2 separate regions of the Homo sapiens genome follow, and region 1 is linked to region 2. A link means that fine-mapping ties the variant in region 2 to the expression of a gene that starts in the linked region. Tissue or cell type: whole blood. Region 2 holds a variant in brackets; the other region holds the start of a gene. All regions are shown on one strand. Distances are between the middles of the regions.

Region 1 (8,180 bases), 120 kb before region 2:
TGTTAGTCAGGCTGGTCTCGAACTGCTGACCTCAGGTGATCTGCCCGCCTCGGCCTCCCAAAGTTCTGGGATTACAGGCGTGAGCCACCGTGCCTGGGCTAATTTGTTTTATTTTTAGTAAAGACAGGGTTTCACTATGTTGGCCAGGCTGGTGTCGAACTCCTGACCTCAGGTGATCCGCCCGTCTCGGCCTCCCAAAGTGCTGGGATTACAGGCATGAGCCATCATGCCCGGCTGCAGTTTTGTTTTAAAAATTGTCAGAAAATACATAACATAAAAGTGACCATTTTACCCATTTTAAAGTGTACAGTTCAGTGGCATTAAGTGGATTTGCTTTGTTGTCGTCCTGTGTTAGTTTTTAACCAGTAACTTCCAATCTTGTGTCTCCCTGTATCAGATTTCTTCTTGCCCCAAATGAGTACGTTTAGGGTTGCCTGACTAAACCTTCCTCAACCCCACACGGTGCAATGCCTGGCGGAGATCCTCCAGGGTTCTGCAACTATAGCTGCTGTTCAGTGCAGTGATGATTGTCTCATATAGAGGGGCTTTGTTTATCGTAAATAATGTGCATCAATTTGGGTTCCCAGTTGAAAACAACAAAAATGGACTCTGGTTGATTTAACGAAAAAGAAACTAAGGAAATGAAATTGGAAAACCCATAAGATCAACAGCAAGGCCAGGAAAGCAGTGGAGGCTACAGTCCAGGCTCACCAGGCAGTCAAGTCTGGGGTTGGCCTGTTGCCAAGGCGTGCCCCCACTCTGAGATGCTACAGGCTGCAGGCACTGCTGCTGCCAGCCACCTGCCCCATAGCTGCTGAACTCTCGGTGCTTCCTCTGCCCACGTCCCTCCACCTCCCAGAGTGTGGTGGGGGAGGGGCAGCTTTTGACTAGCTGAGCCTGTCACATTCCCACACCTTAGCAGAGTTGGTGGGGGGGTTAGAATTATCTGACTATCACCATGTGGAGCGTCTTCCAAATCTAAAAAGAAGTTCAAATTTTGGGCCGCCAAAAACCTGACATACAGCCGTCCAGTCCTGTTTCCTCTGAGCTTTTTCTCCTTTGGACAGACGCCCTGTGTTCCTTCAACTGAAACTCATGGATGAGGCCTCCGGATCCCTTACCACATCGTCATTAATTTTTGGTACCCAGAATTGGAAGTAATCTCACAAGTCTGAGGTACAATGGGATTATTTTTTTCCAAACCCTGACCACCCCCCACCTTAACTTTCATGAAGGCATCCGAAGATTTCGTTACTTCTCTAGTCAGCCATAGTACATAGATGACTCATGTTGGCTCATACAATGCTTGTGGTCAACTGAAATCCCCAGATCTTTTTAGGAATGGCTGTAAAGCCAGGTCTTCTCAATTATTTACTTATATAATTGGCTTATTGAACATGTGCAAATTTAACCGAGTAACATAAGACTGTATTTGTAATACTTCAACTATTTAGTTCACACCCTCAAATTCCCTCACGCTGTAGCACAGTGTACTTGGCTACTTCAACCAGAAATTGTAAACTGGCGGTCTGTAGGCCAATTTGACCACACATTTATTTTGTTTGGCTAATATGGTGGTTTTTGAGAACTAAATCGGTTGCCAACTGTTGAACATCAGGAGATGTCATGTAAAAAGCAGCACTTCCAACTTCTCTTGAAAGGTATGAAGGTCTAGCAACATTTGGTCGTCATTCCCCCAGGGCTGGAGCTGGGCAGCAGCTACTTCCTCTGAAGGGTGCAGACAAAGCTCACTGCAGTCCCCACCAGGCCCTGTTGCCTGGGGTTCACCCTGCTTCGTTAATTTCATGCCCTGCCCAGTCACTGTGGACATCTGGGTGCATAGTCTGTGTGTCCTGTGGGTGCTGGTTATGGCAGGGGCAAAAGGGGTAAAGTGGAGAGAGAAGAAAGCTGGGAAAGGTGGGCTTAAGTGGCTCTCTCTTGCTCTTGTCTGTCTTGGGTCGTGCAAGATAAAGATGTACTGAGGGCAGAGATGTGGCGGTGAGCTTCTGGCACGGGCATCTGTGGTTCTGACTGCCCAGCACGGCAATTCTTCTGGAAATTCTCACTTCTCCTGTGTGACTACAGAGAGTGCTGCCAGGTTCCAGATGATCCTGCTCCTGTGGCCAAGGCACACGGGTCCAAAGAGTGACCACTGGTCCATACTAGTGATAGAGTTTTAGAACTTCCAGGAGTGGCTGATGTTGTTGGAAGAAAGGCTCATGAAGATTTGACCGCATTTTCTGTCATGTGGGTTGGGAAGCAGAGGCAGCTGGTGCAAGAAAGTGAAGGGTTGAGTCATCAACTAGAGACAGGGACAGCAACACACACTGCAGGCTCTATCTGTGCTAATCTGGCTCAGCTCTTAGCCTGGGATCCTATGAGATGCCTCGTATTATTAGTGTATATTCTGCTCCCTTTAAAATTTACCTAGAGTTGGTTTCTGTTGCTTGCAACCAAAAGCACCAGGGCATGTCGTCACAGGCCGTCCTTGCTCTCTGTGAGCCCTTCCAGTGCCTGATGGGTCCCCTCTTTATGCTCCCCCTTGTCTACCATCTGCTCTTGGATCAAGCATCCTGGGTGCTCTAAAAAATTCCCCTTGTTCCTGAGCAAGGGTAAGAGTGAAAGGTGGCTCATGTGAACATGTTTCCATGCACTGCGAGGTGTGTGCCCTTCCTTCGGCCCTCAAGGGAAGCCAGGCAGCTCTGGGATGCTTTCCATCTCACCCTGTTGTTGGCGCTGATGTAAATCATACAGATGGAAATCCACATTGCTGAGAGACATCCAGGTTAAGAAAGCCACCTGCTGCTATCAGAAGCAAAGTTTCCAGGGACTAGCATCCTGATATAAGCACAGGATATGTGTAATTGAGATACTAAGATCTGCCTTCAAATCACCAGTAGGTGATGAGAGAGAGAGAGAGAGAGAGGGAGAGAGAGAAAGAGAGACGTATCCTTTCATTAATTCTACAAATATTTATTGAACACCTACTATATGCTAGTCACTGCCCTAGGCACTAAGGATATTACAGTAGAAAAGATCTGTAGCTTACAGAGAGCTTACATTCTAATGGCATGTAAACTTTATGTGTTAGTTCTGTGGATACAAAAATGAAAATTCAGCCCCAATGGCTTTACAAGTATGAATATCACTTTCCTCATTTGTAAAATGAGTTTAAAATAATTATCACAGGTTGGGCACCGTGGCTGGCGCCTGTACTCCCAGCACTTTGTGAAGATGAGGTTGGAGGATCTCTTGAGCCCAGGAGTTTGAGACTAGCCTGGGCAACATAAGGAGACCCTGTCGCTACAAAAAATTTAAATTAAAAATTTAGCCAGGCGTGGTGGCGCACCTGTAGTTTCAACTATTCAGGAGGCTGAGGTGAAAGGATGGCTTGAGCCCAAGAGTTTGAGGCTGCAGTGAGCCGTGATAGCACCCCGCGCTCTAGCCTGCCTGACAGAACGAGATCCTGTCTAAAGCTATGGAAGTAAATATAAATAAATAAAATAATTATCTGGCAGAGCTGTTTAGAGGATTAAATAATATATAGCACGCTCTTGGCCTTTTAGCCTCAACAAATACTACTTTTTTCCTTAATAATAACAGAAAGATCATACAACTTCACAAACCACAAGGACAGGCTGGCCGATAGGCAGGCCCCCCACGACTCTTCTGATGTTAGCCCTGACTGAACTCGCTGTGCAGCGTCCAACCAATCCTGGTTTGTGCTGGGCCCTGGACTGGAACCCAGCCCTTCCCGACGGGAACGCAAAGCGGCCACGAGGGGGCAGCGCACGGCAGGGAATCTTCGCCGCCGACCCCAGCCCACCGCCAAACTTCCCTGCTGCTCTCGGTCCTCCTGTACGTACTTCCGTTGCTCTGACGCTCCCAGAAGCCGGGGCGTCGGGAAGGAGAGCGCGAATTCACCCTCCTCTGCGCCTCCGTAGGAAAAAATTGGAGCGGGGGTTCACGAGACTGCGCCGCGGCGGGCGCTAGAGCCCCTCGCACAGCGTCGCCAAGGGTGCGGCGTGGAGCCGGGCGCCTGGCGCCAGGGTGCTGGTCGGCGGGCAGCGGCGCCAGCCTCCGACCCGCGACTCCGGCGAGCCAAGGCTGCGCCGGGAGGAGTCGGCGCGGGCCCCGGGGTGCCCCCTTCAACTGGAGCGCCTTCCCCTCCTGCCTTGCGGCGCATCCCCACACCTACACCGGAACGAAGCTCCGGGGCTGTCACTTCTGCGCGCTTCTCGGAAAGGAGTCTGAACTGGGAGCGCTCCGGGGGGTCGTCGGGGAGGATGCCCGGGCGTCGGCTGTGTCCCCAAGCTGCTCGCCGGCGCTGGCGAGGAAGGCAGTCGGGATAACGCCGCCCAAACTTTCCTTCGCAGCAGCGTTGGCAGGAAACGTCCCTCTCTGAGGCTCACGAAAAGCCGAAAAAGACTCGGACGCTTGGAGGAGGCAGGGCCAAGCCTGCGCAGGAGAGGTTCCCCGGAGCCCTGGAGATGTCCTAGGGGACCAGGCTAATCGCCGGCTTGCGCCCAAGCGAAGGGAAGTCCTGCAGGCACGGCGCCTCCTTCCCTGAGCCCCGCAGTGACCGTGACCTCCGCGCGCACCCCCGCGCACGTGCTCGCGGCCGAGGAAGAGGAACGGTCCTGCTGAATCCTCTGGAGGACAGCGACTAGCGAGCAGGCCAGGGGCGCATGGAGGTGCCGCGGGGGCGGTGCGGCTCGCCAGCTGCGCGGAGGAGCGTGCACGCCGCGCCCCGGCCTCCCCGGGGACCTGGCCGGCCGCTGCCCGCACTTCCTGCCGCTGGTCTCCCAGGCGCGAGCCGCCGCTTGCAGCACAGAACCCGTTGAGCTTCGTGCCCGGCAGCACCCCCGGTCCCCCGCGCGGGGCGGACTTGCGGCGGGACAGGTGTAGCCCGCAGCCGCAGGCGCTGCGCTCAGGACTGGGCGGGCTCGGCTGGCCGGTCCCCGCCACGCAGGCCGGTCCCCGCCACGCAGGCCGGTCGGTGAGCCACTTCGCACCGCCACAGCCCTAGCATCGGGCCACCAGCCGGGGTGAAGAAAGTCACGGCGGAGCCCGGCTCCCCAGTCCTGATGCTGGCTGCCGGTGGCGGGCTCCACGCCGGCCCCGGGACCTAGGCAGCCGCGCGAGACCGCTGCGGGCGCCTCCCCCATGCTGCTCGGAGCGTCCTGGCTGTGCGCATCCAAGGCGGCCGCCGCTGCTGCGCAGAGCGAGGGCGACGAGGACAGGCCAGGCGAGCGACGGCGGCGTCGGGCGGCGGCCACCGCCGCGGGGGCGGGCGAGGACATGGACGAGTCGTCGCTGCTGGACCTGCTGGAGTGCTCCGTGTGTCTGGAGCGCCTGGACACCACGGCCAAGGTGCTGCCATGCCAACACACTTTCTGCCGCCGCTGCCTGGAGAGCATCGTGTGCTCGCGCCACGAGCTGCGCTGCCCCGAGTGCCGCATCCTGGTGGGCTGCGGCGTGGACGAACTGCCCGCCAACATCTTGCTGGTGCGACTGCTGGACGGCATCCGTCAGCGGCCCCGCGCGGGCACCAGCCCCGGCGGCAGCCCGCCCGCGCGTCCCATCCCAGGCCAGAGTGCGGCCCCCACGCTCGCGGGCGGCGGGGGCGGCGCGGCAGGCAGCACCCCGGGTTCCCCGGTTTTCCTCTCCGCGGCCGCGGGCAGCACCGCCGGCAGTCTGCGGGAGCTGGCGACCAGCAGGACCGCGCCGGCGGCAAAGGTGAGTATCTGTCTCGGCGGAAGTGGCCACGGCACGTGGGAGTGTGTGGGTGGGTGCTTGGGCGTGGGGGGCAGTGATGAGGTGCGGAGGAGACCACGGGTGGTCCTGCGTTGGCCCACTCCGCTGTTGCTCTTCCTCCAACTTCGCTTGCTTGGTGGCGGCATCCGGCCCCTGGGCAGCTCGCCGCTTGTTCACGTGTGTCCCATCCTCCTGTGGAGTGGGCACGCCTTCCTGTCCCGTCGCTCACCCCCGATTCCTTGGCCGGACTTGTTACCCTGCCTCTTAAACTTAGCATCGCCCTTGCGTCTCCCTAGAAACGGGGACCTTCTTCCTCTGGGTCCCCAGACACTCCCTCTGCACACCCTGGGCCTGCCTAGAGAAAAGTTAGCCCTTAACGTTTCTGACAGGGCTCTGATGGCTGCTCTGGGAAGCCCGCGGGCCTCCTGCCTGCGGTGTGGCTAAGGAGGGGAGGGCAGAAGGCAGAGTGGGACTGGGGTTTGGAGGAATGCTTCTAGTAGTCTGGAAGGAGTTAATCTGGAGGCCCCAGGAGCCTTTTGACCCAGCCCTTTTGGACTTGGCAGTGTCTAACCAGAAGCCAAGGTCTTCTCCTGGGCTCCCAGGCAGGGTTGCATTCCCACGGGGGTCATTTATATTTATTATTATTATTTTTGGTACAGCCGCATTTTAGGGCCTTCGCTGCTTCTGTTTTAGACGAAAGATCTTCTCTGGATGGCTTCAATGATTTGGTTTTAAAAGCTTCTTACAGCTTCTTATTACACACCCTTGCCACCTTGTGAACAGTTACCAGGAGAGAGGGCATGGGATGCTGGTTTAAATGAGAAAAGAAAGGACCCGGGTTTTGTTAATTTCTTTAAATGGAGAAAAGCACTTAAATGTTAAAAAAAATACATTATCTATTGGAATAATCATTTGCTTTAGAAACACAACTTTATTCCTCTACTTTTGACCATTTAAGGAGTTGGTGATGCCTAGTCCTTCCACTATGTGTAATCCTGAAATGCTGGGAACATTCTAGCACCTGGATTAGGCAGTACTGCAAATCTCTAAGGTTAAGGTTAGGAACTTAAACCCTTGGATGTTGAGCTTGAGTTAAATGCCATACTTTGCTGCAATGGGTTTTTTTTTCTATGGATCAGGAAGAATGGGGACAGTCAAGGATAGTCACTGGGGGTCACTTGGGGGGCACTGCTGAAGGGGAATTTTTTTCTTTGGTTTTAATTGTGATTAAATCCAGCTAAATGCTTGCGTTAGAAATTTTCAAACTTTTCCTTCCTGGCCTTGCTGTTTTTGATGTAAGGTATTTATAATTAAATATCTTTATTTGCAGAATAAGTGGGTTACCTTCTTCTGTTCTGATAAATTATGTGATATTCGGAGCCCCGCTTCTAGTAAAACGCTGGGACATTCTGATGACCATCTGTTTACAGATGTCCTCTCAGTTTATCTTGGGGGACTTTGTGTTTGACCAGGAGGTTAGGAGGTAACCTCTGACATGTGACAGGCTGAAGCTTTGATGCCACTCCGGGAATTCTGTGGCATTTGTAGTACCTTTTAGAACTTGTCAAAGGGGTTGAAGCTTGGAACTTTTTAGTAGTGACATTTAGTATTAGCAGGAAATTGATGTTTTACTCACCATATGTTGAGACCCTTGGTTGACTTTCTTTATGGGTGCATAGTCATGTTCATGACTTTTTGTGTTTTTGGGATGTTTCTGGATGTTGTTTAATAGACGAGCACTTATTTAACTAATAAGCAGGAGTCCCGCATGGTGTATTCACACTACACTAGCACTATACTACCATGCTGGGATAATAGCATTAGGTCCAGCACATGCTTCGGGAGTGGGAAGGATTGTAATAGCATATCAGGCATTGAGCAACCCTATACAGTTGGTTGACAAAGATTTCGGCTGAAAATTACTTTTGGTACTTTACTGTCCATTGGAATTGCTTGACTCCTGCCAGGAAAGTTGAATGCTGGATGTTGTTGCATGTTGTTTAATAGAGGGGCACTTATTTAACTAATATGCCATGATAGCAGGTAACCATAAATATTACAGTCCCATCATTTTCCAATTAGAAGCTCCTTACATCTTCTTTTGGGCCAATTAGGGTATGTATACTTTTTAGGTATATAGGTAAGTATTGGCATAGCTTGTTTACTTTATTAATTTTGTTACGGTTCAATATTTTGACAGCTTTATTTAAAAAAAAGTTTTAATTTCTGTTTGGTTTTACTGGCAGGACACAAAACAGTGTTTTCCTGAACTCTTTACCTGTTGTTTTTCATCGGTTTTGGTGATCACCAGAGTACTTGGAGTCCCCTGACGTGGTTAGCAGAACCTCTCAGCTCTGCTCTCACCTGAGCCATTTGAGATAAAGCGCTTTTGTGGAGTCAGTTAACGATGCTGCCCCTGGAAA
Region 2 (8,180 bases):
TGTGGTGGCAAATGAGGAAGGGATTTTCGTATTCTCCTCGTGTGCATTCCAGCCAGGGAGGCCAATGAACAGGAAATGCTCATGAAAAAAGTCAGATGGGGCAGGTGACATACAGGTAATTAACACCATGGGAACCTATAATGGAGAATGACAGAGAATGACTTTTATATTTGGTGGCTGGGGAACATTTTTAAAGAGATGGTGTCTAAACTGAGAGCTGAAGATATGAGTGGTGAGAAGGGGCCAGGGAGGCAAAGGTCGGGGACAATCGCCTGGTACAGGGAGACTAAGGAGAGATTGAGCATGGTGTTTTCAGAGAACCTCGGGGTGGCCCGAGTGGTTTTGCAATCCAGGAAAGGAGTTTGGGACATGTTCTCTGTGCGTTGGGAAGCCATTGAAAGGCTGTAATCAGGACAATACGTGATCTGGTTTGCTTTAGAAAGATCTTGAGTGAGTAAATAGATGAGTGAGTAGTGAGTGAGAGAGGCTTAGACACCAGAAGAGCTCATGCCACCGACATGCAGCCATGGGCACTTGGTGGTTCTGTTTGCCCTGCCCAGCTCATGTGCTCATAGGTGAAGTTTTTGCCATCAGCAGTGATCATTAAACAGTGAGATGGGTAATTGTAGCGAGGGTATTTTCTCTGTTGGTCCTAGATTGCCTAGAATCCTGATAGAAAGAATAGTTTTCCTTGAACTTACAATTCAGCAAATCCTCTGTAGCTATTTTTTTTGTACTGTTTGAAGGATGTACTATTTATGGACTGCAAAACAATGGATTCTAATCCGAGCTGGAGATAAAACATGACGGGGGCATAAAACATTTAAGAAGCACACAGGAGGTACAACAAAGCATTATGCAACAGCTTCTTCAGGCAAATGTGCACATTTTGCATCTAGGAGCAGGTGAGAAAAGTGACACAGAGCAGAATTGTCCTAATATATAAACCTCAGGTGGTATTATGAAAGTAAATACTATATTCAGTCTTTAGGCAAAACCATCAGTACTGATTTTTGCCCATGAATGCAATTCTGTCTTCCTGATGTGTTGGAACTACCCCCAAACAAATGCCAAATGTGAGATTGAAAATTAAATTTATAGGGCCCTAAGCTGTTTGGAACTGTTTTTAAGATGAGAGCTGTTCCACCTAATAGTTGCTATAGGAATAAGCTGGCAGGATGAGGAAAACCCAAGAATGCCAGTTAGCAGGAGAAGATATCGGAGTTTCTGTTAGGCAAACACAGGGAGGAAATATGGAGATGGTATTATCTGCAGCACTGAGAATCACAGCCTCTAGAGACAGGAGTCAAAGTCACTCAGAACCTCAATGCCCGGGCCCTTGAGGCAGCCTGTGGCCCAGGGCAGGTGCCCCTCCTGCTGCTGGCCTTGGAGGGGTGGCCTGAGAACAGGGGAGGTTTTACACACCTTTCCCACTGCAGCCTGTGCCATCGTCATATTCTGCAGGGTGTGGACACAAGTTAGAAGCAAGACAAAGTTGGCTGGCCCTGAGCTTGCCCTTGGGTTTGAGACTTGATCAGGTGCCAGTATCTCTATGGAGAACTGTGAGTACAGTTCTTGCTGTCTTTGTTGTTGGATGGCGTCCCCTTTAAGTGTTTAGTCCTGTTGTCTGGGCAGCCTTGTGCTGAGGGACCCATTGCTGAGCAGAGTGTGCCCAGTTCTCAGCAGATAGAATGAGAGCCCCTCCACCATCTCACGGGAAGCTCCCCTGCTGGAGCCCACTTGGGTTCTTGCCATGTGGCTTCTGTGCTCCTGGTGAATGTATAGCTCCTGTCTCTCTAGGGTCATCTTACTGGCTGCTCTGAGGTTTTCAGACCACAGAGACAGGAGTAGAGCTGTCTGCTGCCATGGTCAAGGTGAGGCCCATGCCTGTGGTCATTCCCTCTGTCCCCAACTTGGGGACAGTGTCAACCTCTGCTGTAACTGGAATTCCCTCTTGGTGCTTTCATGTAATTTTTGTTTCTTTGTGGTTTTTGTCTGGATATTCAGACCCTCAGAGTCTGGCAAAATAATTTGCACATTAGTGCTTCCTATGTGAGTTGATTATTTTCCTTTCTAAGAGTCAACTAGAAATAAAAAGTAAATTAAGTTTTTATTTTTATTGGACAAACTGCACCTCTAGCCTGACATGTTATTATAGGAACTTGGGCTTTGAGGAGACAAATTTAAGTCTATATATAAAATAACTTTACGAGTTTTCATATTTGCTTCTTATCCCTTGAACTGAGACCATATTTGTTAAGATTTCTCTCTGAAATTGGCCACAATAAATATCTTAACAAATTCAGGAAATTCATTCTAAGTCATCATTTTTGCTATAATTCCTGGACCTTCAGATTTTCTGGTTAAAGTTGCCTCAGGGGGACCCTCAGATCTTTATGGAGTTTGTAAATCCATCATGAGAGATTGAATCTAGAGTACTTAACACTTGAAATCTAGAGTACTTAACACAATCCCGGGCATCATTTACTGGTCTCAGGAAATCCTTTGAGGGAACAAAAAAAAATTACTGCTATAATGAAAGTCTCTAAGCTGGCTTATTCACAAAAAACCAGTGTGGTGAAACAAAAAAAGAGCATGGATTTTTGAAATCAAGACACCTGGATTCATACTTCAATTTTACACCTAGGACTGTGATAACATTGGGCAAGTTACTTAGCTTCTGTTTCTTCATTTGTGAAGTGGGAGGATACCTGCTTTGCAGGGTGGTTGTGAGGTTGACAGAGGCTGCCTTAGGCTTTTCAAGCTGCTGTAACAAAATACCGTAAACGCAGTGGTTTAAAAGCGGCAGCAATTTATTTCCCACAGTTCTAGACGCTGGTCGTCCAAGATCAAGGCACTGGCAGATTCGATGTCTGGTAAAGACTGGCCTCCAGGTTCACAGACGGTGCCTTCTCACTGTGTCCTCCCATGGTAGAGGGGGCAAGGCAACTCTCCGAGGCCTCTTTAGTAAGACACTAATCCCATTCATGAGGGCTCCACCCTCACGATCCGGTCACCTCCCCAAAGGCCTCAGCTCCTAATAGCATTACCTTGGAGGTTAGGATTTAACATATGACTTTTAGGATGACACATACATTCAGTCCATTGCATACTCCAAGGAATATCATGCCTAACAGGATGGCTGGAGAGTGTAGATGTTTCACCACTGTAGTACCCTCCAGCCTTCCTTTCCACACACAGCCAGTGTATCTCCCTGCACGTGTCTTATTTGACCTGTGGACTTAACGTGCCTGGTGGAATTGCCCTGGCTCGTCCTAAGGCTGGATGTCTCTGCTCAGATGGACTGGGAGGCAGTGGGGATGCCGGGGTGGAGATGATACCTGAGCCTGGAGAGCCTCGCTTGCTCTGAGTTGAACTGCAGTCGGATGCCCTAGCTCATCCACGTGCTTCTGTTGTGACAGCGATGCTGGGGGTGTCTTCCTTCCATTCGGTGGCACAGGTTTGATGCTAGGACCCCTCTGACTCAGGGCTCCAGGCCAATGCTGCAGCTCAGCCTTGAGGAGGCGTTCCCAGAGCATGAGGAGGACTCATGGTGGAGGATGCTGGTTAGTCTCTTTCTGGTCGGACCCTCACTTTTTGAGATGATGTGACATCTTTCCTGTAGTCACAACTACATTCAACTCTAAAACCATTTTAATTTTTCATTTTCCCCTGTTTGGGGAATTGTAATCCCATGGGTGTATGGATATTATCCAGAGACATGAAACATGGAGTTTGGGTTTGCAGAGGACAAGGAAGCTATGAGATAAGGGAGAACAGAATGAAGTCACACCCCACACAGATGCCCACAGATTATGTGCTGCAGTGAGTCCTTAATGTCCTGGAATCGGTGACACACCAAGGATGGCTTTCAAGAGCTTTCTTGAGCCCTTTATCCAAATCTCTGCAGCCCCTCCCTGAACTTCGTTAGTTTCTAGATCAGTTTACTTCCTAAGTAACCTAGCACACTTGTGTAAGACCAGCTGAGCTTCCCAGATGATCCCTGAACGTCACGGCTCCTGACCGTTCCTCTGAGGACACTTCCTGGAAGTTTTTGTGCAAAACCATTATTCTTCCCACCTTAAGGCAGGCATGGGTGGTCACGTGTCAGTCCAGCCTGCTGTGCTCTTCCTGTGCAGAAACTCTTGCCTGGTTACACTTGGCGACTTCTCTTTGTAAACAAAGGTGTGAGTGTCCTTAACACCTCACAGTTGACGGACTGGCTGCGTTAGCTCTTCCTTTGTTAGTTTCTGATTGCCAGTGAAGGAGAACATCTTCTATATGTTTTTCCCTGTATCAGTTAGGATTTGCTGTATAACAGAAACCCAAAACTTAGAGGCTTAAAATAATACCTTTTTATTTAACTCACTGTTGTGTGTGTTGGCTGGGGTTACTGGGGCAGCAAGGATGGCCTGGGTTCCTCTCCACATGGTCTCTTATATCCCCCAAAGGCTAGCCTGGGCGTCTTCATGTGGTGGACTGAAGGTCCCAGTAAGCAACAAGAAAAGGCAGACTCCAACGTGCAAGCGCTTTTTAAACCTCCATCTGCATCATAATTGTTGTTGTCTCATTAGCCAAAGGAAGTCACAGGGCTGCCAAATCTAGAGGCAACCTTGGATGGAATATTCCAAGGGCCTGGATCCAGGGAACATGAATCAATTGGAGGCTGTTACTCTACAATCCACCACAAAGTCCACTGCCTGTTTTCTTTTGATTG[T/C]TGATCTTTTATATTAGGAGGAGTTTTTAAAATATATTCTGGATATTAATTCTTTCATTGCTATATATGTTGATTCAGATGAATAGGAGTTCTTACTTTTAATAAACAAGGTCACTTCTCTCAATCTTTTTCTTTTCTGATGTGCTCATTTTGGCTATTGTTTTAAAAATCTTCCCCACCCTTGAAGCCATACAGATATTCTTCTTATTGTTTCCTGAAAGTTTTATGGTTTTGCCTCTCATGATTATGTGTTATCGCTCTCATTTTTTTCCTTTTGGTAGGATAATTAAGAAGTGTTTTTATTAGGTAAGCTCCATTTTCTCACTGCATCAAAGTCATTTATGCAGGCCTGCTCTGCAAGTGGCATTTTCCAAGTGGAATTAAATGGATGTTACTACCCTGTAGTTAATTCCAGTCTAAGACAATTGCAATGCAGACAGAAACCTTGAGACATTAATTGACCAAACATGTATATTAAATAGGTTTGAATATTCAAGTGCAAGCAAATAATTAGTACACTTGGTGAGTGAAGAGAAAAATGAAGTACTGCATTTCTTTCCTTTCCTTCTTTCCTTGCCTCCTTCTTTTCTTTCTTCCTTTCCTTCTTTCCTTCCTTCTCTCTCTCTCTCTTTCTCTTCTTTCTGTCTTTCTCTTTCTGTCTCTCTTTCTCTTTCGTTTTCTCTCTTTCTCTCTTTTCTCCTTTTCGTTTTCCTTTTTCCTTTCCTTTTTCCTTTCCTTTCCTGTCCTTTCCTGTCCTGTCCTGTCCTGTCCTGTCCTGTCCTGTCCTGTCCTGTCTTGCTCTGTCACCCAGGCTGGGATGCAGCCTCCAACTCCTGGGCCTAAGTGATCCTCCCACCTCAGCCTCCTGAGTAGCTGGGACTATAGGTGCATGCCACCATGCCCAGCTAATTTGTAATTTTGTGTAGAGACCACAGCTCACTATGTTGCCTAGGCTGGTCTTAAACTCCTGGCTTCAAGCAATTTCCCTGTCTTGGCCTCTCAAAAAAGGATTGATTACAGGTGTGGGCCACCACACCTGGCCAAGAACTACACTCGTTAACTTCAGCTAAGCAACTCCCCCCCGACTCCTACCCTGTTCTTTCTTCAGGTTTCTGTTGAAAAGTTATTTGGTAAAAGAAGAGGGCCTGAGCAGTGATTCTTAAGATGGAGGGAAGGAAACCTAACACATAATCTTTGCAAAAAATCCCCGAGCAAGTTGGTATTATTGCCATGACTACATGAGGAAACCAAAGCTCAGAGGATCTGGAGAATTGTTGAGCAAGGAACCCTTCCCTCCTGCACCAGATCTCTCTCTCTTTCTCTCTTTCTCTTTCTTTCTTTCTTTCTTTCTTTCTTTCTTTCTTTCTTTCATTCTTTCTTTTTCTTTCTTTCTTTCCTTCCTTCCTTCCTTCCTTCCTTCCTTCCTTCCTTCCTTCCTTCCTTCCTTTCCTTTCTTTCTTTTTCTTTCTTTCTTTCTCTTTCTTTCTCTCTCTCTTTCTCTGTTTCTCTCTTTCTTTCTTTCTTTCTTGACAGAGTCTTGCTGTGTCATCAAGGCTGGAGTACAGTGGTGCGATCTCAGCTCACTGCAAGCTCCGCAAGCTCCGCCTTCCAGGTTCACGCCATTCTCCTGCCTCAGCCTCCTGAGTAGCTGGGACTACAGGCGCCCGCCACCGCGCCCGGCTAATTTTTTGTTTTATTTATTTATTTTTTAATTTTTTTATTTTTTAGTAGAGACGGGGTTTCACTGTGTTAGCCAGGATGGTCTCGATCTCCTGACCTCATGATCCACCTGCCTTGGCCTCCCAAAGTGCTGGGATTACAGGCGTGAGCCACCGCGCCCGGCCTGCACCAGATCTCTACCAAATTTTAAGTCAGTGAAATATAAATGAAAACTTGTTATTTTTACCATGACTGACATCAGTGTTTTTGAGGGCAAAACAGTAGGTGTTCCTTTTTTTTTTTTTTTGTCTAATTAGAATTCTTGTTTTTATCTGTCCTTAAGGTTTTTCTCTGTCTTTAAGGTTTTTCTCCACTCCTAGGAATGTTCCCTAAGGTTTTGATATAATTCAGGAATTTGTATTTAGGGAAAGGCAACTGAACCAAGTTACGAGAATGTTTAGAACTTTGGAAGCCCTGGGGAAGACATCTCGCCCATTGCTGGTTGGACAGAGCCAACGTGGGGGTTTCTAAACATGCACAAGCTAACAGTCTCCATCAGCTCTGAATTCACTTCTGAGCTTAGCAATGTAAGCTTGTATTATATACAACTTCGTTTCTTCATGAAACAATCATCATAATAAATTTTGATATACTCGGAAAACTTACCAGGTTTAAATATTTATTATTATTATTAAAATAAATGGAATAATAATGGACTGGATTTTAAAGGATCTAGAATTTGACCGTTTTTCTTTTTCAAAACATGATAAATACAGAAAAACCTTTAACAAAATAATAACAGTAATAATAATAATAATAGTGGTATGTTTCCTGGGCTAAATTTAGAAAACTATTGAGTATGAGGCAAATATGGAAAACATATTTATATCAAAGGAGGACCTAGAAGCAAACTACCATAACTTGCCAAATTCAACTTCTATGTTTGTTATAATTTAGTAATTAGCTATTTTAGAAAAAAAAAGTGCTTCAATAGGGAATTAGGATTTTCAGAATTTTGAAGCCCTGGGAAATAATTATATCCAGTGCTGTTTAGGTAGAACAAAAAATCAAATCACTTACCTGGAGTAAATCCAAAAAAGTGAAACCATTTTAAAAATTATCTTTTTAAATTTCTAAATTAACGTTGTTTAGGCATATACATTGCATTCTGTATAGCTTTTTTTTTCAAATTATTAATATTTTTATTTATTTATTTTTTTTGAGATTGAGTCTCACTCTGTCGCCCAGGCTGGAGTGCAGTGGCATGATCTCGGCTCATGGCAACCTCTGCCTCCTAGGTTCAAGTGATTCCCCTGCCTCAGCCTCCCACAGTAGCTGGGATTACAGGCATCTGCCACCATGCCTGGCTAATTTTTTTATTTTTAGTAGAGATGGGGTTTCACCATGTTGGCCAGGCTGGTCTCGAACTCCTTACCTTGGGTTATCCACCCGCCTCAGCCTCCCAAAGTGCTGGGATTAATTACAGGCGTGAGCCACCATGCCCGGCCCAAATTATCTTTAACAAAGAATTAGAGAGATGCAAGACACCCGGCCTGCCGCGGGAGCATGAGGGAGTCTGTGCATTCCTTTCCAAGGCATCTGTGAGTGCATGGAGTAGACACCATGAGCAAAGCTCACCCTCCCGAGTTGAAAAAATCTATGGACAAGAAGTTGTCATTGAAATTAAATGGTGGCAGACATGTCCAAGGAATATTGTGGTCATTTGGTCCCTTTATGAATCTTGTGATAGATGAATGTGTGGAGATGGCGACTGGTGGGCAACAGAACAATATTGGAATGGTGG

Evidence for each region. PIP is the estimated chance that this variant, and not a neighbour inherited with it, causes the effect.
Region 1: SH3RF3 starts here. The variant in region 2 is fine-mapped to the expression of SH3RF3 in whole blood (INTERVAL, PIP above 0.99).

The regions. Positions count from the first base shown.
Region 1 is chr2:109,124,375-109,132,554 of GRCh38, forward strand. SH3RF3 (SH3 domain containing ring finger 3) reads left to right here and starts at 4,831. Exons shown (of 10, transcript NM_001099289.3): 1 at 4,831-5,739. The coding sequence starts at 5,167. It overlaps SH3RF3-AS1 (SH3RF3 antisense RNA 1), which reads right to left and starts at 5,745. Exons shown (of 1, transcript NR_029193.1): 1 at 2,953-5,745. It also overlaps a transcript of RANBP2 not described here. RefSeq lists silencers at 4,047-4,106, 4,487-4,556, 4,567-4,616, 4,647-4,846.
Region 2 is chr2:109,243,423-109,251,602 of GRCh38, forward strand. The region is part of intron 1 of SH3RF3 (SH3 domain containing ring finger 3); the gene reads left to right. It also overlaps a transcript of RANBP2 not described here and the pseudogene SNRPGP9. Among named protein-coding and RNA genes, the nearest start is that of MIR4266, 66 kb to the right of the region's middle. The variant T/C (reference allele first, on the strand shown) is at 4,718.